2 separate regions of the Homo sapiens genome follow, and region 1 is linked to region 2. The links come from fine-mapping of genetic effects on gene expression. A gene starts in region 2. The other region holds a variant in brackets. All regions are shown on one strand. Distances are between the middles of the regions. Region 1 overlaps WSB2 (WD repeat and SOCS box containing 2). Region 2 holds the start of RFC5 (replication factor C subunit 5).

Region 1 (2,909 bases), 24 kb before region 2:
TGGTCTCCGCGTCACGGGATAAGACTCTTCGCATCTGGGACCTGAATAAACACGGTATGGGAAGTGAAGGAACTACTCGGCAACTCCAAAAATACTGTATTTGCTTTCTCCACTTTACCAGTGTCATTTTTATCTAAAACAGTGTTTCTTGATGTTTTTTTCTGTGATTGCCCCTTAAGGAGCCTTTTAGACAGTTTTTTCCTAATCGCCCCTGCCCGCCCCAAAGATAATACTATACCAAATAGAGTTTAATACCGAACATATACTGTGTGTCTATTTAGGCTATTTTAATATCGAAGATATATTGTATATCTACTTATGTGCTGAATGCATGTCTATGCTTTGTATGTAAAAAAATGTTAAGATTTTTTTGGCTACCAAGAACTAGTTTGTACCCTCTTGGGGTGAATTGCCCCTGTTAAAAATATTTGATCTAGAACAGGTTTTCTCATCGGCACTATGGATATTTTGGGCTGGATAACCCTTTGTCGTGGGCTCTCCTGTGCATTCTAAGACACTGAGCAGCGTGCCTGGTCTCTTCTCTTTTGATGCCAGTAGCATCCTCTCCAGTTGTGACAAGCAAAAAAGTCCCCATGTCCTGTGAAGGGCAAGGTCTCCCCAGGTTGAGAACCACTGATCTAGAAGTCCCTGTTGGGTGCTTCCTGTTAGAAAGAAAGACTTTCTTTTTGAAGCAGACTCTAAGCCTAGAATAATTCTCTCAGGCTATGGGGCATCAGGTTTTGTGAAATTCTGCCTCGAGCAAACTATATACAGGGGTGGCCCAATAAGGAATTCCATACATTTCTGGATTGATCCTTAACTAGAAAGGTGATATAAGAGGCCAGGCACAGTGGCTCACGCCTGTAATCCCAGTACTTTGGGAGGCTGAGGCGGGTGGATCACCTGAGGTCAGGAGTTCAAGACCAGCCTGGCCAACATGGCCAAACCCCATCTCTACTAAAAAATACAAAAATGAGCTGGGCGTGGTGGTGGGCGCCTGTAGTCCCAGCTACTCGGGAGGCTGAGGCAGGAGAATCACTTGAACCTGGGAGGCAGAAGTTGCAGTGAGCTGAGATCGCATCACTGCACTCCAGCCTGGGCAACAGAGCAAGACTCTGTCTCAAAAAAAAAAAAAAAAAAAAAAAAGTGACATAAGAGAGGGGAATTTATTGCAATGCCAT[C/T]TTTCAATTCCTCCAGCCCTGGATGGGGCTCAGGGGCTGGAGGGATTGGAAGGAGGCAGTGGTAAAGGGTCATGAAGAGGATCAGGGGCTGGAGGGATTGGAAGGAGGGTCATGAAGAGGCCACTTGTCCCCATGGTGTGAAGGCACTGGCACTCTCTCCCAAGCTATGACTGTCCAGCTCCACACAGCCATGGGAGGGACCTTTCTCCTGCTCTTTTAGCAATGAGCCTGAAAACTTGTATCTTAGTCAATGCCAGAGACTGGGTGGCTTAAACAACAGACATTTATTTCTCACAGTTCTGAAGGTTGGGGAGTCCGTGAGCGAAGTGCTAGTAGTTTTGGTGTCTGTGAGCACCTGCTGCCTGGCTTGTAAACAGCCACCTTCTCTCTGCATCCTCATCTGGCAGGGATCTCTCTCTTTCATGTCTCTTCTTCTAAGGGCACTAATCCCATTCCTGAGGCTTCACCCTCATGACCTATTGACTTCTCAAAAGCCCCGCCTCCTAATACCATCACATTGGGGATTAGGGCTTTATGTGTGGGGGGCACATTTAGTCCATAGCAACTTGTCAGACAAACTAAGGCAGTGCACATGCATCCTCATCTGAAGGCATCTGATCACCAAGATAACTCTAGGTGTTTTTTTGGTTTGTTTGTTTTTTCTTGAGACGGAGTCTCACTGTGTCACCCAGGCTGGAGTGCAGTGGCACGATCTCAGCTCACTGCAACCTCCGCCTCCCAGGTTCAAGTCATTCTTGTGTCTCAGCCTCCCAAGTAGCTGGGACTACAGGCGTAAGCCACCATACCTGGCTAATGTTTTGTATTTTTAGTAGAGACAGGGTTTCACCACGTTGGCCAGGCTGGTCTCAAACTCCTGACCTCAAGTGATCTGCCTACCTGGGCTTCCTAAAGTGCTGGGATTACAGGCGTGAGCCACTGCGCCTGGCCTACTCTAGGTGGTTTCTGCCCAGTACTGTGGAACCTGTAATCCCACAGTCTAAGATGTGCTGCTGATCAGGACAGCTTCTCCAAGGCAGTGCCTCTTTTTTTTTTTTTTTTGAGACAGAGCCTCCTCCAGGTGTGTGCCACCATGCCTGGCTAATTTTCGTATTTTTAGTAGAGACGGGGTTTTGCCATGAAGGTCAGGCTGGTCTTGCACTCCTGACCTGAAGGGATCTGCCCACCTCGGCCTCCCAAAGTGCTGGGATTACAGGTATGAGGTACCACGCTCGGCTGGCAGTGCCTTTTTAAATGCTGGCTTAATGTGTGTACTGAGGCAGCTTGCCACCATCTCAGGAAGGTCCATGCAGTGGCTCTGGAAATCACTTGATGACTTGGAAGGAAAGACCAAGTGAGAGTGACCAAGAGTGGGCGGGATGGAGTAGGCCAATTATGAGAGCTTTTCAAGGAGAGGAGGGGAATAAAGTTGGTTCCCAGCTGACAGGCGCTGCCCCACTGACCTAACATGCCTTAATTTATTCAGTACTCCCAGCACCCTGAGATTTGACAGCTGAAGAAACCATGATTGACCTTTATTTTTTGAGACAGAGTCTCACTGTGTTGCATGGGCTGGAGTGCAATGCTGCGATCTCGGCTTATTGTAGCCTCTGCCTCCTGGGCTCCAGTGATCCTCCTGCCTCAGTCTCTGGAGTAGCTGGGACTACAGGCACCATGACTAACTTTTTAAAAATATTAATTAAAGCACTTTGGGAGGCCAAGGCGGGCGGA
Region 2 (2,909 bases):
AGTGCACAGGACAGCTCCCCTAAACCCACCCAGAGTATCTGGCCCAAAATGTCAATAGTGCTGAGGTTGAAAACTCTGTTCTAACTTCATCTTTCCAGCTGTTTGCCTATAATCTCAACCTGATGGGCACCTACTATTGCAAAGTGCATTTGAAACTGAACTCCTACCCAAATAGACTTCAACAGAAGAATGGATAGGTAAAATCTCTTCTGTCCATACAATGGAATATGATTCAGCCATAACAAGAAATTAACTACTGATACAAGCAGCAACATGCATGAACCTTGAAAACATGATCCTGAGTGAAAGAAACCAGACACAAAAGGCCACATAGTGTAGGATTCCACTTACATGAAATGTCCAGAATAGGCAAATCCATAGATAGAAAGCAGATTAGTGGTTGCCAGGGGCTAGAGGAAGGGGAGAATGGGGAGTAACTGTCAATGGGTAAAGGATTTCCATTTGGGGTGATGAAATTTTGGAACTAGATAGCGGGAAGACTCCACAACAGTACACTGCATTCTGAATGTACTTAATGCCACTGAATTGTACATTTTAAAATGGTTACAGGATGGGCTTGGTAGCTCGCCTCTAAAAGTCCCAGTTCTTCGGAGGCTGAGGCAGGAGAATGGCTTGAACCCCAATGTTTGAGGTTACACTGAGCTGTGATCACACCACTGCGCTCCAGCATGGGCGACAGAGCGAGACCCTGTCTCTAAAAAAAAAAAATACGTAAATACATAAAATAGTTACAACTGTCAATCTTCTGGGTTTTTTTTAACCACAATAAAGACAAATTGAACTAGTTACTAGACAATGACAACTTGCAGCTTTTCGAAGCCAAGCCAAATTGCTTCAAAGTCTTGGAAGCATTGCGAGAACATAGCTGTTTAAGTAGGATGGTTAAGAGTACAAGATCTGAATTCAGACTTCCTAGATTCACCTCCAAGCCAATTTTCTCCCTTGGACCATAGGGAAGTCATTACATCTTTCTAAAATGCAGTTTCCTCCTGTGTAAAATTTGAAGCGGTGCCTACCTCCTACGGTCTTTGTAAGGATCGAACATCTAACAGGGCGTCTGCTAATCTAATAATATGCCATTCAATAAAAGTTGACCAGGGAGCGTTATTACTAGTTTAAAATGTGACCAATAGTCGCATCGCAGGTTTTGAAGAGTGGGAAGAGGGCATTTTGGCATGGAGGCCATTGCAGGCGTCAGGAGACGCGGGATCGAACCCCTGTGCTGTCACCAGGTGCGAAAGCCGCCTTCTTCTTCGGCAAATGGAGCTGGGGGTGAAAGGGTGAGAACTGGCAAAAGCCCTAAACAGAACGGACGAGTCTGGGTAGCTGGGGGGTGTCGGGGGAAACCTCTGCAGGTCGGTCCCGGCTGCAGGCCTGGAGACGACGGGAAGAGGTCGGGTTGGGGTCCGGTCACCTGCCACCCCAGCCACCTCCTCCCCGCGCGGCCGCCTGGCCCCCTCTGCCCACCGCCGCCGCTCGGCCTCCTCCTACCAGGGCAGGTTCCTGATCTTGGTCGCCGCGGGCTGCTCCTGCTGCTTGAGTGCTGAGGTCTCCATGGCGGGGAGACGAAGGTGACCAGATCCGCTGAGATCGTCGCGTCACCCAAGCGCCTGCACAGTGACCAGCCGCGACCTGACCCTGAGACCCTGGCACTTACAGTTCGCGCGCAAAAGCAACTCTCGCGAGACGCGGCCACCAGTTTCCGACTTCCTCCCTCGGTCCCGCCCCCTCGCGTTGCTAGGGCGTCGGTTGCTAGGTTACCGGAGGCGCGGGCCGCCAGCGTCCCTCCAAGCTCCGCCCCTCCAGCCTGCTCTGAACTCTCAGATACCCAGGCGCTTCCAGAGCAGGGCAGCGGGAGAGGCAGGGCCCCCTGCAGCCCCAGTCATCATTACATATTAAGATCTCAAGGCCAAAGCCAATTCCTGCCATCGCCAAGCTTCAAACACTTAAATTCAAAGGAACAAAAGCTGCCGGGGCTCAAAAAAAAAAAAAAAAATCTAAGAAAAAAAACAACACCGAGTAAAACGGCTGGGTCTTGAATATAGATGCCTTTGCGAAAGAAGGCTTGAGATACCTCTCGGCCCCCAAGCTGGGAGGTGAATATTTGGAAATGAAAACAACCCCAAACAAACACAACTGCAACCTACCTATCTCCGGAATCCGTGCCCCTCGCCCAAAAAGTTTAGGGAACCAACCTCCAGAAAACGACTCCAGAGAAAAACAAACAGAAACTTCCAGTTGGGTTAATCTGTGTCGCTGGAAGGTCTAGTTCATGAACACAGAGGACAAGGTCCTTGTGATCTGAGATACTGAGGAGAATCGATATCAACATTTTAGGTTTTTTTCCTGAGGCGAGGAGAATTCTAGATCACTTTTATTTTCTTCTTTTTTGTTGGTCTGTATTTTCTTTTCTTTTTTTTGGTGTCTTGCTCTGTCACCCAGGCTGGAGTGCAGTGGCGCTATCTCGGCTCACTGCAACCTCTGCCTCCCGGGTTCAAGCGATTCTCTGCCTCAACCTCCGGAGAAGCTGGGATTACAGGCGCGCGCCACCACGCCTGGCTAATTTTTGTATTTTTAGTAGAGATGGGATTTTGCCATGTTGGATAGGCTGGTCTCGAATTCCTGACCTCAAGTGATCCACCCGCCTCAGCCTCCCAAAGTGCTGGGATTACAGGCGTGAGCCACTGCGCCTGGCCTGGTCTGTATTTTCCAGCAATGAGCATGCAAAGCATCCATATTGAAGTCTTTTCTTTTTTTTTTTCTTTTAACATGATGAGGAAGACAAAAATCCTGGAGGATTTTTGAGGCTGGCCTGGGGTCAGCAGTGTTCTGATTAGGAGGTAGCAATACTCTTTGCATAGGATTACATCACTGTCACCTGCTTCAGG

Evidence for each region. PIP is the estimated chance that this variant, and not a neighbour inherited with it, causes the effect. A credible set is the group of variants that fine-mapping cannot tell apart.
Region 1: its variant is the best candidate, but not a certain one, in a credible set for the expression of RFC5 in whole blood (TOPMed, PIP 0.75).

The regions. Positions count from the first base shown.
Region 1 is chr12:118,039,986-118,042,894 of GRCh38, reverse strand. WSB2 (WD repeat and SOCS box containing 2) reads left to right here. Exons shown (of 9, transcript NM_018639.5): 4 at 1-54. It also overlaps a transcript of RFC5 not described here. Among named protein-coding and RNA genes, the nearest start is that of WSB2, 20 kb to the left of the region's middle. The variant C/T (reference allele first, on the strand shown) is at 1,182.
Region 2 is chr12:118,015,496-118,018,404 of GRCh38, reverse strand. RFC5 (replication factor C subunit 5) reads right to left here and starts at 1,702. Exons shown (of 11, transcript NM_007370.7): 1 at 1,513-1,702. The coding sequence starts at 1,577. RefSeq lists a silencer at 1,411-1,460 and an enhancer at 1,825-1,994.